Regions from separate parts of the Homo sapiens genome. Here region 2 is linked to region 1. Evidence: fine-mapped expression QTL. Tissue or cell type: blood mononuclear cells. Region 1 holds a variant in brackets; the other region holds the start of a gene. All regions are shown on one strand. Distances are from middle to middle.

Region 1 (8,179 bases):
AAAATTGCTTATCCGTTCCCTCTATGCTAATAAGTGTTTTGATAGACTCTATCTCATTTAATCTTTAAAACAAATCTGGATATAATTATTCCACATGGTGGACCAAGCTCTGAGAAGGTACTTTATAGTAGACTCTGCCCCTAACAACTATATTGTCTTTCTGTACCGTCCATGAGAGGTCCAGACAGTGAGGACCATAGAGAACGGAGGCCAAGGTCCCTTTTGGCTTAGTTGACCAGAAGTAGCTTGCTGGAAAAGGCTCCTGTAGATGTTCCCTCTTCTAATACCCCTACCCAATGCTTTCTTTTTCTTCAACGTAGCCTCCAGAGAACTCCCAAATTAATTTTTCTAGGATACAGCTATGATCACCATGAACTCTACTCAAAAACCTTCAGTGATTCCCCTGAAATTCCCAAACTACTCTTCAGCCTGAAATGCAAGGTCTCGACTTCACCTTGGCTTTCTGACCTTCTCTCTGTCTACTCCCTCTCCCTATGTTCTTGCCAAATAGAACTATTTGCTAGTCTGCATGTAGGTCCACCTGCTGCTTCCAAGGCTCTTGGCATACCATTCCTACCACCTAGATGCCTTTTCCTCATCTTTGTCTCTCCAACTCTTACCCATCCTTCAGAGTCCAGCTTAAATATCACTTGCTAATGATAGTTACTAAGCTAGGGCAAATATATCTATATATCTATATATATATCTTTTTTTTTTTTTTTTTTGAGATGAAGTCTCTCTCTTGTTGCCCAGGCAGGAGTGCAGTGGCACGATCACTGCAACCTCCACCTCCCAGGTTCAAGCAATTCTCATTACTCAGCCTCCCAAGTAGCCGGGATTATAGGTGCTCACGACCATGCCAGGATGATATTTGTATTTTTAGTAAAGACGGGGTTTCACCATGTTGGCCAGGCTGGTCTCGAACTCCTTACCTCAGGTGATCCACCCACCTCGGCCTCCCAAAGTGCTGGGATTACAGGCGTGAGCCACCGCGCCCAGCCATCTTTTTTTTTTTTTTTGAGATGGAGTCTCACTCTGTCTCCCAGGTTGGAGTGCAGTGGCGCAATCTCGGCTCACTGCAACCTCCATCTCCTGGGTTCAAGCAATTCTCCTGCCTCAGCCTCCCAAGTTGCTGAGATTACAGGCACATGCCACCACGCCTGGCTAATTGTTTGTATTTTTAGTAGAGACAGGGTTTCACCATGTTGGCCAGGCTGGTCTTGAACTGCTGACCTCAGGTCATCTACCTCCTCTGCTTCCCAAAGTGCTGGGATTACAAGTGTGAGCCACTGTGCCCGGCCATATATATTTTTTATACCATGTGTTGTGGCTTATTTGTATGTCATTTCCTCTACTAGACGGCAAGCTCCTTGAAAGTGAATCCAGATCTCATTCATTCATACATTTTCCCGTATTCCAGTATCCTGGTATATCTTTGTATTTTTCTGTATCCCCATACACTAGTATCCTAACCCAGTTAGAGCTCCATAAATATCTATTGGATAAATTGATTTTTAAAATCAAAGAATAAAATACATAAGCAGAAGGATTGGCCTTCCCTGCCAATCTTCCTTTGAAGTGCTCATACCTTTACACATAGGTTTGGAGTCCTACAAAGCTCAGATAGGATTGAACCCAGTGGGGTAACATTGTAGAGAACAATGAGTCATTTGCATAGTAGGTTGTAGAGTAAGAGGATGGGACGTAGAGTTCAGGGTGAGGGTAGAGGAAGGGCTGTAATAGCAATGAATTTCATTCTTTGTTTTTTGTTTTTGTTTTTGTTTTTGTTTTTGAGACAGAGTCTCGCTCTGTCACCAAGGCTGGAATGCAGTGGTGTGATCACAGCTCACTGCAGCCTTGACCTCCTGAGCTCAAGCGATCCTCCTACCTCTGCCTTCTGAGCAGCTGGGACTACAGGCGTGTGCACAACCACACCTAGCTACTTTTAAAATTTTTTGTAGAGACAGGGTCTCACTGTGTTGCCCAGTCTGGTCTTGAACTCCTGGGCTCAAGCGATCCTTCTGCCTCAGCCTCCCAGAGTACTGGGATTGCAGGCATGAGCCACCATGCCCAGCCTCACTCTTTGAAATATTGCCCAACATCCTGGTATTTGAATTCACCTCCCTTGCCTGGTGCAAATTGTGGCACCTCAGCCAAACCTAGCAGCCTGGTCTGTCACTAATAAACCCCAGATCCCTTCCTAGCCTGTCGCCTCTCACTCATCCCAGGGTACATGCTGGTTGCAAACTAAGCCCAAGAGTGGATTTGGACGCAAGTTGGTAAATAACAACTAGGCTTTTAGATTCGGAGTTTGGATGATGAGAAAAGTGAAGTTTTGAGTGGGTGGGAAGAAACCTTCCCTGATTTTGGCTGGTACATTCAGAGACTCACAGCACTAACAGACAGGGCAGGCTGCCGGGGCAGGAACCCTGGGGAAAGGTGTGTCACACAGGGCCTGAGGTGAAGGGAGAGCTGCTCGGGTAGCAGTGGGGGAGGGGGACAGAGGCTGGGAGATCCTTCCTAGAGATGGGAGCAGCTTTCCACTTCAAGGACCACAGGTCTGCAGGCCCACAGCTCCTAGGACAGAAACTTACAAAACTGTCACTGTCAGGAGGGAGTGCTGGCTCTCAGATGGACTCTGTTCCTGAGCCCCTATCTTGCTTCCATTCACCTTGCACCAGCTGCCCAGAGAAGCTAGCCTTGAGCTGATGTCTACCTTTGCAATATTCCACCTGAGTGCATGCTGTCTTTTGCTGATCTGGTCTTCCAAAATCTAAGAAGCCTACAACAGCATTTTGGGATATGGGACATTTAGAGGTCTCATTACAAGTTCCATGGGACTTTTAGAAAAAGCTTAGATCTATGGACAACTAGGAGAAGGCAAATTTAAACTTGTTTGAAGCAACCCACACAAGAGCAGGTTTTCCTAACCTGGGCGGGGGTGTCCATAAATTCCCAAGGGGGTCCATGTGAACTCAGGAGGCGATGAACCTGCTGAAATTATGTGAAAAGTTATTCATGAAAAAAATTAAAATTAAAAAAAAAAGAAAAGCTATCCGTGTGTGACTGCATTTAGGGTGAGGTAGGGGGTCCATCACCTTTATCAGATTCTGAAAGGGTCTGTGACCCGAAAAGTTAAACAAAACAAAGCAACACATTTTTCTAGAGGATGAAGGTGGGAACTGGGTGTCAGGGGAATTTGGAGGACATTCTAACTCCTCCCACTTCCCATATGCTGCAAACGTGTGCAGTAGGAAACAATGACAAATACTAGGAAGTGGCAAGCATTTCTTAAAAAGGGCCTTTAAACAAATAGAGTCCTGAGCATTTCCCAGAGTTTCTTATAAAAGTTGTCTTCCTCTCTTTAGGTAGCCCCTTTCTTTCTTTCTTTCCTTTTTTTTTTTTTTTTTTTTTTTTTGAGACGGAGTCTCACTCTGTCACCCAGGCTGGAGTGCAGTGGCGTGATCTCAGCTCACAGCAAGCTCCGCTTCCCGGGTTCATGCCATTCTCCTGCTTCAGCCTCCTGAGTAGCTGGGACTACAGGCACCCACCACCGCACCCGGCTAATTTTTTGTATTTTTTAGTAGAGACGGGGTTTCACCGTGGTCTCGATCTCCTGACCTCATGATCCGCCCGCCTCGGCCTCCCAGAGTGCTGGGATTACAGGCATGAGCCACTGCGCCTGGCCTTTTTTTTTTTTTTTTTCCCGACACAGTCTTGCTCTGTCACCCAGGATGGAGTACAGTGGCGTGATCTCAGCTCACTGCAGCCTCCGCCTCCCAGGTTCAAGCAGTTCTCTACCTCAGCCTCCTGAGCAGCTGGGATTACAGGCACCTGCCACCATGCCTGGCTAATTTTAGTAGAGACAGTGTTTCGCCATCTTGGCCAGGCTGGTCACGAACTCCTGACCTTGTGATCCACCCACCTCGGCCTCCCAAAGTGCTGGGATTACAGGTGTGAGCCACAGTGC[G/C]TGGCCACACTATTCTTTCTCTCTCTTTTTTTTTTTTTTTCTGAGACGGAGTCTCACTCTGTCACCAGGCTGGAGTGCAGTGGCGCAATCTTGGCTCACTGCAACCTCTGCCTCCCGGGTTCAAGTGATTCTCCTGCCTCAGTCTCCTGAGTAGCTGGGACTACAGGCACACGCCACTATGCCCAGCTAATTTTTGTATTTTTAGTAGAGATGGGGTTTCACCATGTTGGCCAGGATGGTCTTGATCTCTTGATCTCCCATCTCCCGTCTCGGCCTCCCAAAGTGCTGGGATTACAGTTGTGAACCACTGTGCCCAGGCTCTCTCTCTTTTCTTTTCTGTTTTCTTTTTTTCTTTTCTTTTTCTTTTCTTTCTTTCTTTTTTTTTCTTTTTCTTTCTTTTCTTTTTGACAGGGTCTTACCCTGTCACCTAGGGTGGAGTGCAGTGGTGCAATCACAGCTCACTACAGCCTCAAACTCTCAGGATCAAGCAATTCTCCCATTTCAGCCTCCCAAGTAGCTGGGACTACAAGTGTGTGCCATCATGCCTGGCTAATTTTTTTTTTAAATTTTTTTATAGAGATGGCATCTCTCTATGTTGCCCAGGCTGGTCTTGAACTTCTGGGCTCAAGCAATCCTCCTGCCTCAGCCTCCTAAAGTGCTGGGATTACAGGTGTGAATCACCATGCCTGGTTGTACACTACTCTTTCTTACTTGTCTCTCCTTCTAGTTTGTCTTCACTGCCACAGGGGAACCTCTTCTAGTAGCTGCTATTTCTTCAAGAAGGACGTGAAGCTAGAGACTCAGGAGTGCTTGTTTGTTAGGTTGGAATTAGGAGCCACATCCAGGAGAGGCTGAGTAAGTCCTTCATCTCATCCAGTGGTAGCCAAACTTTTCAAGCCTGAGTACCTCTTTAAGACTTCAAAACCTTAGCTGGGAGCAGTGGTTCATGCCTGTAATCCCAGCACTCTGGGAGGCCGAGGTGGGTGGATCACCTGAGGTCAGGAGTTTAAGACCAGCCTGGCCAACATGGCAAAACCCCGTCTCTACTAAAAATACAAAAATTAGCCAGGCATTGTGGCGCACACCTGTAATCCCAGCTACTCCGGAGGCTGAGGCAGGAGAATTACTCCAACCCAGGAGGCAGAGGTTGCAGTGAGCCAAGATTGCGCCACTGCACTCCAGCCTGGGTGACAGAGTAAGACTCTGTCTCAAAAACAAACAAACAAACAAACAAACAAACTTCAAAACCACTTTTGGATCCTTCCAAGTAATCATAATTGTACTTTTAGTATCTACAAATGAAGAACTGCATGCTGAGAAAAAGCTACCATGCATTCAGTAATACTTTTTACATGTATCTTAAAAATTATAGCAGCACCTCTGTGCATTTGACAAACAGCACAGGCTTTATGTGTGAGACGCATCATCTATTTGTTCTCTAGGCAATGTTTGCTGTGCATCTGGATTCAGGGACCCCATACTGTCTGAGACCCTCTCCCCTTCCCGCAAAGCGGGGATCGCTGGTCTAATTTAAGCTGTTTATTTTATAGATGAAGAAACTGTGGTCTAGGAAAACAAAGCTCCTAGTGAAGTAGTTTGGGGCCCATTTCCATCCAGGTCTCTTGACTATGTCAAGAGATGCCCATGGCATGATGCCCACGAGCTATAGAATGGACACTCAGCTATGACATCCAGTTTCCCACTCCCATACTGCCTGTGCTCTCCCGTCACTAGGAGGTGTCCAAAGGGATGAAAGGACGCTTTAGGGCTTGCCTGATCTGGGAAACAGTCAGACAAGAGAGTGAACCATGAAACACCAGGCCCTGGCAACAAACTGGAGCACAAAGCCATGACACGGCTGCCATGGGCTGAGGATGCCAAGCTGGCAGCTGAGCCCTCCCTCACTTAGTCCTCACTATAACCCTGACCATTAAGGAATATTATCTTCACTTTATAGATGAGGAAACTGAAGCTTAGAGAGGTCAATGACAATGTCACACAGTTACTAAAAGCTGCAGAGATAGGACTCAAAGCCAAGTCTAAATCCAGACCCTGAAATGGTAGTCACTATGCAATACTACTTTATGTAAGGCTGCTGGGCTCAGGATACTTGGGGCTTCTTCAGGACAAAGTTACTTTGCTACCCCTTTTCCCAAGGAATCATTCTAAACCCAGCCACAGCTTACCAAGAATGTGTAAGCCCCTCTCTTCCGGGAGACTATCTGCAGCACCAAGCATCTTGGCCACATCCTGCAAGGGCCCAGGAGGACTCCGCAGGCAATATGCCACCCTTGGAGGACACAGCGTTCTTTACATTCTAATTCTAGCTCACAGCCTGTGTACAAAGGAGGTTAGAAAGGGTGAGTTCCTATGCTCATTCCCACCTCTCTCCTCAGTTCACACACTGACTGCAGGGTGTGGGGCTGTGTAAAGATCGCCCCACTCCATGAAGCTCTTCAGAACTAGAGGAGCCCACACTGATTTTTCTCATTCCTTCTAAAGCATGTTCTCTTTGGCCATTAACATAGCTTCTGCCTTTTCTCTTTTTTGAATCACATATGAGAATCTTATATTGCCAGCAAGCACCTTGTAAGCAGGGGCCAAGTCCTAAACATACTCTCCATCCCCTACCCCAAGTGCCCAGCTTGGGGCTGCACACACCATCAACTCCTGATAAATACTTGCTGGACTCCATCCAATGGTCCTGACAATAAACTGCCCCCCTCCTGGACCATTCCTTCTAGCCACTGCTCTCCTCAAAAGAAATTGCGGGCACCTCACTCCCCAACTATTTCTCCACAAGGCACGTGACCTTTAGAAGTTCTGGGATTTAGTTTTGCTGCCCCTGTCAGAAAGAAGCCTGACCTTTCTGATAATCTGTTGTTTGTGGGGACCCATGGAGAATACACGAGACCAGTTTTTCTGCACCTGAACAGGGCTCTCTGAGAGCTCTGAGAGGCCATTGGAGGCCTTGGCTCTAAACCATCTGAGTCTAGAGCCAAAGCCAGAGATGGAGGGAGTCGGGTGTTTGCTCTTCTCCACTCTTGCCACCTTCTCAAGGGCTCCCGGTAACCAAGTGTGTTTGCCTTTTGCTACCCTGGGAGGCCAAGAGCCTCCTTTTCCCTGCAGATGGAGACAGAACTTCTGCGATAAGAGGCAATTCGGCTCCTGATCCAAAACTGCAGTCTCCTTGGAGCCCGAGGCTCTGGTGCCATGACTGAGAGGGCCCTGGGCCACAGTGCTGTCAGACTGACCTTCACTGGGTCAACCCAGATCACTAACCAAAGCCTGCTGGTAGGTTATATGCCTCTCTGAGCCTCAGTTTCTTCCTCTGTAAAATAGACAGATCAGGCACAACTGATTACTAAAGCCCTTCCTGTGGTAAGTTTCCATAGTCCTAAAACGCCTCTGGGCCCTGAGTCCTAAAATGCTGTTCTGGGGTTCCAGAGTGGCATACTGCCTTCTCAACACTCCCCCCTCACCCCCACCTCATTACCAACTCCTCACCCCCACCTTATTACCAACTCCTCACCCCCACCTCATTACCAACTCCTCACCCCCACCTCATTACCAACTCCTCACCCCCACCTCATTACCAACTCCTCACCCCCACCTCCTCATTACCAACTCCTCACCCCCACCTCCTCATTACCAACTCTCCACGGGACTTTTAACCACATACTGCAGCCGCACTTTGGCATTGTCCAGCAAGGAGCTCCTACGGGTTCAGATGGTCCTATTGACAGAACAGGGTTGCTGCCACCTAGCACCCTAGAAAACTTCCGAAGGAGAGAGAGGAGGCTTTTATGCAGTCTGACATTAAATCCGTAAATCAGAATCCCCCCTTATCCCTTTCAGACCACCAGAGTACGTTATTCACTGAATAATGTTAAAAACAGCAATAATATCTGAAAATTTTACCTGGGCACCAAGTGCCCAGAGAAAGAGGCACCTGGTGTTGGATGGACTTGAGTGTCAGGGCCCTGGGGTGAGCAAGGGCTTGGAGAACAAGTGACTTCAGACTGACCTGTGAGGGAGAGGCCCCTTCTTAGGAGGCAGGGCCCTGACCTCGCTGCCCAACAGAAGTTGCCCAATCTCTGTGGCTAAACAAAGAGAGCTGAGATGAGGAAACCAGAACGTCCTGGGGAGTGAGCGCAGAGCACAGAAAACACGGCGACGCCAGCGGGGCTGCAGCTGGGAGTGCTCAGC
Region 2 (8,179 bases), 41 kb before region 1:
GCCAAATGGCAGCAACACTCTTCACTACAGCTTCCCTTGCCATCAGTTGTCTCACCAGGGCGTGCATGTGGTGCTTTTATATCCCCGCAGTGTTTAACCCAATATCCACGTGGTAGAGACTCAGTAGTTGCCTCTCAAGTGGGAATTAGACTTCAAAGACTCTGATTAAATCCTAGAGCAGGGGTCAGCAGACTATAGCCTGTGGAGCCAACTCCGGTCTGTTTTTATGAATATCTGACTCTTTTTGTAAATAAAGTTTTATTGGAACACTCCCACACTCGTTCATTTACATGTTGTCTATGACTGCTTTCACATTATTATAGAAGTGAGTCATCGCAGCAGAAACCATATGACACACAAAGGCTAAAAAATATTGGCTCTCTGGCCCCTTACAGAAAAAGTTTACTGGCTGGGCATGGTGACCCACGCCTGTAATTCCAGCACTTTGAGAGATCGAGGTGAGCGGATCGCTTGAGCTCAGGAGTTTGAGGCCAGCCTGGGCAACATGGCGAAACCCCCGTCTCTACAAAAAATACAGAAATTAGCCAGGCATGGTGGCACGCGCCTGTAATCCCAGCTACTGGGCTGGGGGTTGGGGCCTGAGGTGGGAGGATCACTTAAGCCCAGGAGGCAGAGATTGCAGTGAGCAGAGACTGTGCCACTGCACACCAGCCTGGGTGACAGAGTGAGACCCCGTCTCAAAAAATTAAAATTAAAATTAAAAAAGCTTCATATAGCAATTTGAATTTTATAAAAGGGAAAAATGAAAAAGAAAAACTTTGCTGACCCCTGGTCCAGGGTTACAGCGTGATATGGTAGATAAACCATTTTCCAAAGCCTTTTTTCTGTTTACTTCCAAATGATGCTTATGAGATGGGGAAAGGTCCAAATCCAGAAAGATCTTGCCAAACCAAAACCATTATTATAACCAATTACAGCTGTTTCCTTTTCAAACCAATGTGCTTATTAATAGGAAATTTTTTGAAATATATTCGAGTACTTTTCTCTTTTGCATTTTTTTGTTCCTGTTTCCCTCTATTCAGCCAGATGTATCCATATTATTTAAAAGATAATGAGGATTTTCACAACAGGAGTGCAAAGAGAAATAAATAGTTAATATTTTGCTTCTGGCATCCGAAATAAGGTTTTCCAGAAAGTTTTTTTTTTTTTTTAAGACATGGTCTTGCTTTGTCAACTCAGGCTGGAGTACAGTGTCATGATCATAGCTCACTGCAGCCTTCAGCTCCCAGGCTCAAGCAATCCTCCCACCTCAGCCTCCCAAGTACCTGGGACTACAGGTGCTGCAAGCTGCCACATCTAGCTAAATTAAAAAAAAATTTTTTTTTTGTAGAGACAGGATCTCACTGTGTTTCCCAGGCTGGTCTTGAACCCCTGGGCTCAAGTGACCTCCTGCCTCTACTTCCCACAATGCTGGGATTACAGGTGTGAGCCACCATGTCCAGCCAAAAAGTTCTTCTACAGATGGGATCTCACTATGTTGCTCAAGCTGGTCTTGAACTCCTGGGCTCAAGAGATCCTCCGGCTTTGGCCTCCCGAAGTGCTGGGATCACAGGTATGAGCCATGCTGCCCAGCCAAGACAATATTTTTGACAACCAGGTTTTCTTGAGAGAGAGGATTTTCTAAATTTCTTCATTTCCCTTTGAATTGTTGTCATAGAGTTCTACATCAGATACATCCCAGCCAAACAGGAAAAAAAAAAAAAAAAAGAAGACAAAGCGTACATTTTCTGATTCTAGATTAAGGGGACTATGGGAAGAAGTAATCTCAGCTACTCGGGAGGCTGAGGCAGGAGAATCGTTTGAACCCAGGAGGCAGAAGTTGCAGTGAGCCGAGATGGCGCCACTGCACTCCAGCTTGTGCAACAGAGCGAGACTCCATCTCAAAAAAAAAAAAGTGCTTAGAATAGTGCTTGATACATAGTGGTATTATTATGAGCGGTGGGGTGATAGATATTACTGGTAGACTTTTTAAGGAGTGCTGAGAAGAGTGGGTTCCAGGTCTCATTTCCATTCAGGAATGTGGAAGGAGATCACCTCGCAGACTGCCCTGTGTCAGTTGGAGCAGCCACATCAGAGCAAACTCTGCTGGAAGTGGGGCTGAGCTTGCCTTTCCCCTGCCCTTCGTCAGCAGCCCTCAGTCCCCATGTGCCTAAGGGGGCTCAGGAGCACTGGTCAAGCATCTCACAGGAAAATTTCGAGGGGCTTATCTTAGAGATGTGGGCCACTGAGCGGATACAGTGGGATGGGGGCACATACAAGTCAAAGCCAGGTCTCAGGATGGTCCACATTGCCACGAGCCAAGGTAGCGCAGACAGCAAGGGAGAACACTGGATCTCAAAGGCAGAAAGAGAATCACCCATGAGTGACTCTGGCCTAATATCAGACATCAGCCACCAAGGCCAGCAGAAGACCCAGGAGCAGGACCTGTGTCTCCTCAGCAGTCAGCAATTCGGGCGGGCCCGTGGGCCCAGCAGCTCCAGAACAGAAAGGAGCCGAGATGGAGAGGCCACAGGATAGATGCAAGAACCGTCCCCACCCCGCCCTCCTGTGCACCTAGGTGCCATCTTCTGCAAATCCGAAAGACTGAGCATTGTGTCTAAAGTGGACTGTTTACCATTTAAATGATTAAATCCAACTATGCTTCATAGATTAGACTAAAATATGGCCCCCATCCAATCATCCAACCCTCCCTCGCACCACTGTCCAGAGGGATGGGAACTTATAAAGGCATTTCATAGAACTGAAGAAATCGCCTTTTTTTTTTTTTACATTTGAATGTGGTGAGGGTAAACGTGTTGACTCTGCCTGTCTTCCTCCTGCCCGCACCTCTTCAAGCCCTGAATTGGATTACAGGTTAACACCCTGCCATGCACGTCTACAGACATACCCACACCCACACCTGCACAAGCTTGTGTCTAAACCTTGCTTCAGGAACAAGCCAGAAGAGTTTTGGGCTCTAAGGTAAACAGGAGAGGAAAAAAAAAACTTTCTAAAAAAAGACTCCCTCCTGGTAATTTTATTTTAAAAGTAGGGAGAATACCACTGTTTGCATAAACAAGCTTCGAAGGTACAACTACTCCCTGCTCCCTCTATGGCTAATCAAGGGAGGAGTTGAAGGAATCAAACAATCCGTCAGTAAAAACGTATTGTTCACTCACTTTGCAGAACAAAGCCTATGCTTTGGAGCCTATTAGGTAAACTACAATTTTTTTAAAAACTTTTAGGGATATAGGGAACAAAGCAAAGAACAACGGAAATCCCTCTGCCTCAGTATTGAGACTGTGCTGGAGGTCACTCCACCCGTGGCGACTGGGGACTGGACCCAGCGGTGAAGTCAGATAGCGTTGTCCTCAGGCTGTTTTTCAATTTGCTTGATAAACATGCAGGATTTCTTTGCCAGTCATAAAGCTACTAGCTCAAAGCAGGCTGGGTGACCTCAGATGGCTCCGCTGGGACTGGAAGGTCACTGGAGCCACTGGTGAAAATGATGCTGTCACTACCAACTCAAAAGGTCACCTATCAGTGTGCCATGTGCCACCTCCTGGAGCACACACATGTGCACACACATACACTCACACGTGTGTGCAGGTGCACACCTCCCCCAGAGGCTGCAGCCAAGACGGGCATCCCACATCAGAGGGATGAATGGCAGGTCTGTCCCGCCAGCTGTGTGCTCTCTCCCACCCGAAGAAAGCAGCAGAGACTCAGACGGCGGAGCCTGGAGGAGCCCACGCAGTCTGTTCCCGGCACCCGGTGCGTGTGAAGGGACTTGAGGGCAGCGAGATGGAATCAGCAAGAGAAAACATCGACCTTCAAGTAAGTTCTCTCTGGAAGAGAGCAGAGGGGAGACCGGGAGTAGAGGTGAAGCTGGAAGAACAGAGGATTGATACTTTAGTCACTTGATATTCTCCCTCCCCGTTCTCTTCTTACTCACTCCCTTCTCCAAATGCTCCCTAGGCTTTGTCTCTTTATTTTCTCTTTCTCTCTGTTTCCCTATCTGGTTCTTCACTTGTTTTGAAATATCTGAAAAACAGATTGGTTAACTCCCTTTTGGCCTCTGCTTCCTCTTGTCAGTCAAAGAGCTAATTAGATCCGTATTACCAGAAAATGATTTCACATTCTGAGCAGTGCTTTCCCCAAACCCCAGGACAGTAGAGACTTCTCTTAGAGCTGCCGGGGAGACAGGAAATATATGAGTTTTGAGGCTAGGAAGAGAGGCAGCTGGCCAACTTTGCATTTTACAGGTTGGAAAAAACTTGAGCCGTTTCTCGGCTGTCTTCACAAAGCTCTACTGTGTAGGACAGAAAGCGTCTCATTTGGACAGTGCAAGGAAAGGAAATCAGTCTAATCTCCTAGGAAGAGGCAGAGATGTGTGTCCCTCTGTAGCTGGGATGGGCTTGGAAGGCATCAGAGGTTCCAGTCCACTGCTGGAGGGGAAAGGGTGGGATGTTACGGTGAGAGGAGAGCCAGATTGCTGGGAGCTGCACTCTGTGACTCCTTGCCAATGGATAGAATAGAACGAACCCTTCTATGACCACTGCTGAGGCTGTGTAACATTGCAGAGAATCAAACAAAGTGTGGAAAAGGACTTTTGAGATCAAGAATTTCTGATCCCTGAACCTGGTCCTCGAACAAAATCTTAAGCAGCCACCCAATATACACTTCGGATTAAAGAAGAGCTGTTTTGTTGAAGCAGAGTATGTGCACGCGTCTCTCTCTCTCTCTCTCTCTCTCGTTCTCTGTGTGTGTTTTGGGCAGGGTGGCGTGAGTCTGGCAGAGTCTCTGTCCTTGGCCCCTCCGCCCTTGAGACACCACCAGGGAACTGTAGGACTGCTTGGTGTGCTGTGTCAAAACCATTCACCTAGTACAACTGCATACCCAGTGCTGTTTTCCTGGATTGGCAGCCAGCCCCGAGAGCGGTCCCACCGCAAGGCTTGCTTGTCCCTCTGTCTGGAACCTTCTTTCCCTGGCTTATCTCCTGGCTGGCCCTTCCTAGTACATTCAGGTCTCAGCTCAAATGTTACTTCCCCCAGGAGCCCTCCCCTGACCAACCTCTTCACAGGATGCCTCCTCCCCAATTTGTCTTTATCATTTGTTTAATTTCTTTCATAGCACTGCTCACCACCTAAAGTTACACTGCTTATTTATTTAGTATGTATTGCCTGTCACTCTCACTAGGACACAAGATCTCTGAGGGCAGGGCCTCTCCTGTTTTATTCACTGCTGCAGCCCGAGTGCATGAGGCAACTCTTGGTACACGGTCATTGCTTTAGAAAACATTTGTTAAATGAATGAGTTGAGGAAGCCATGAGTTGGAGAGGCTCTGAGATAGGAATAAGGTCACCTAATTGGCCCAAGACCTCCAGTCCATGTCTTCTGTCCCTAGTATGTGTTTTCTTCTTACTTCTAGTTCTTGCCTCTATAAGATCCTTGGTTGTTAAGGAAATTGTGTTGCTGCTTATTTTCATTCTCAGAAGAGCAAGTTTCTTATGTGCTGATGGGTTGAACGATCCAGAGTTACAGGCTAAGGACTCTGCATCTGAACCAGAGGTTCAGAAGGAAAGAGGTGGTGGGAGGAAGGAGAAGGAAATGACTGGCTAGGCTGGATGAATGTCTCTCTCTAGCAGGTAACTGAGGTGTTAGTGTACCTTTCTCTTCATTTGTCATTCACTCTCTTCTAATATGCTATTTAATTCTTGTATCTTACATTTTCCTTTGCTCAGAAGGTTATCCATTATTTTCTACAATTTATTGTCCACCTTTGGCTGGGCACGGTGGCCTACGCCTGTAATCCTAGCATTTTGGAGGCTGAGGCAGGAGGATCACTTGAGCTCAAGAGCTAGAGATCAGCCTGGGCAACATAGCAAGACCCTATCTCTATTAAAAATTTAAAAGTAATTAGCTAGGCATGGTGGCATGCACCTGTAGTCCCCACTACTCGGGAGGCTGAGGTGGGAGGATTGTTTGAAGCCAGGAGTTCAAGGTTGCAGTGAGCTACAATCATGCCATTGCACTCCAGCCTGGGCGGCAGAGCCAGACCCTATCTCTAAAAACAAAACAATAACACTCTTTAGTTAAAACAATGTTTCCCCAAAATGTGGTACAATTATCACCAATGGGTGGTAAAGGTACATCAATGGCTGACAGCTTTTTATTATAATGTTTATTTTTACAGTTTTTTTTGAGATGGAGTCTCACTCTGTCGCCTAGGGTGGAGTGTAGTGGCAAAATCTCAGCTCACTGCAACCTCCGCCTCCTGGGTTCAAGTGATTCTCCTGCCTCAGCTTCCCAAGTAGCTGGGATTATAGGCATGTACCACCACACTTGGCTAATTTTCATATTTTTAGTAGAGACAGGGTTTCATCATATTGGCCAGGCTAGTCTTGCACTCCTGACCTCAAATGATCCACAAGCCTCGGCCTCCCAAAGTGCTGGGATTACAGGTGTGAGCCACCATAGCTGGCCATCTTTATAGTTTCAGTATTCATTAGAAAGAGCATAACAGGGCCGGGCTAGGTGGCTCACGCCTGTAACCCCAGCACTTTGGGAGTCTGAGGTGGGCGGATCACGAGGTCAGGGGTTGCAGACCATCCTGGCCAACATAGTGAAACCCTGTCTCTACTAAAAATACAAAAATTAGCTAGGCGTGGTGGTGTACGCCTGTAGTCCCAGCTACTCAGGAGGCTGAGGCAGGAGAGTTGCTTGAACCTGGGAGGCAGAGGTTGTGGTGAGCGGAGATCGTGCCACTGCACTTTTGAGACTCTGTCTCAAAAAAAAAAAAAAGAAAAGAAAAAAGAAAGAAAGCATAACAACTTATCAGACCTGTGATTCCTTTTTTTTTTTTTTTTTTTTTTAACAGACAGGATCTTGCTGTGTCACACAGGCAGGAGTGCAGTGGTGCAATCTTGGCTCACTGCAGCCTTAACCTCCTGGGCCCAAGTTATCCTCCTGCCTCAGCCTCCTAAATAGCTGGGACCACACATGTGCACTACCATGCCCAGCTAATTTTTTTTTTCTTTTTTTAGTGATTGGGGTCTCACTGTATTGCCCAGGCTGGTCTCTAACTGCTGGTCTCAAGTGATCTTCCTGTCTTGGCCTCCCAAAGTGTTGGGATTACAGGCATGAGCCACATGTCCAGGCAATTCCAACATTTTTATTGCTTAGGATGAGCCTCAAGTAAGTGGCAGGAAGTTTTTTGACACCTTTATACAGTCCTTGCACATGACCTGGGCATACCCTCAATGTCTTAGTAACTGTTTCTGTCTGACCTGTTCAGAAGTACGGCAGCCCTGGGTGACATGGATCACAGGTGTGTGTGCCCGCACCTACTACTGCACTGAGACGTTGAAACCCTGAACATGGCACAACTGAAGTTTGGGAAACTCTAATCTAAAATAACATTAACTTGAGCCTCTATAATCAATGTTGCAAATGTATCTCCAGGTCAAGACCTGTGAGACTGGGATGGGTAGCAGCAGCACAGCTGGCTGTGAAGAGTGGCGCACAGCACTCAGGGCAGGTGGCCTCCACCAGCTGGATGCCTGGAGCTGCTCCTTCTGTTCTATGGCCTGTGGCTGTGGCCTCCAAGCCTCTGCCCTTCTCCCTGCCTTCACTGGTAGCCCTGCCAGGGAGCTAAGCCTGCGCATCTCCCAGAGTCTGGATGTGTGAAAGGTTGAGGATAATCCCTTTCTTCCCCTTCGAGCCAGTGTTGCAACCCTACCCCCAAGTACAGAGTTTAAGCCCCTAGCCTGGCTCCTTCCCAAAATGCAGCTCCTCTTGGGCTTCCAGATTCCCCAGGCAGATCCAGTTATTGGCCCCTTTTTTTCCACCTGTGCTGCATGTTGATGGAAATGTGAAGATGATCTGCCAAAAGAGGAACTAAGACTTGTCCAAACCGAATGCAAATTCAGTATAGCTCAGGTTAAGTAGAGCGAGATACAGATAGAATGAGATGGGAGTGGAGGTAAAAACACTTATGAATAGAAGAAGGTCTATAGGCAAAGTACTCTGGGAGTGTTTTTGTTTGTTTGTTTGTTTTATTGTTTTTAAAGACATATATATATATAAGCAGTTATATATTATATATATATTATATATAATATATAATAGCAGTTATATATAGAGAGAATAGCAACTATATATGTAATAGCAGTTTTAG

What was found. PIP is the estimated chance that this variant, and not a neighbour inherited with it, causes the effect.
Region 2: it holds the start of NINJ2, and the variant in region 1 is fine-mapped to the expression of NINJ2 in blood mononuclear cells (TOPMed, PIP above 0.99). The same link has a PIP of 0.9 or more in lung.

Annotation. Positions count from the first base shown.
Region 1 is chr12:617,649-625,827 of GRCh38, reverse strand. All of the region lies in intron 1 of NINJ2 (ninjurin 2), which reads left to right. Among named protein-coding and RNA genes, the nearest start is that of NINJ2-AS1, 9.2 kb to the left of the region's middle. RefSeq lists enhancers at 1,371-2,114, 2,115-2,859. The variant G/C (reference allele first, on the strand shown) is at 3,971.
Region 2 is chr12:658,986-667,164 of GRCh38, reverse strand. NINJ2 (ninjurin 2) reads left to right here and starts at 3,720. Exons shown (of 4, transcript NM_016533.6): 1 at 3,720-3,837. The coding sequence starts at 3,805. RefSeq lists an enhancer at 23-522.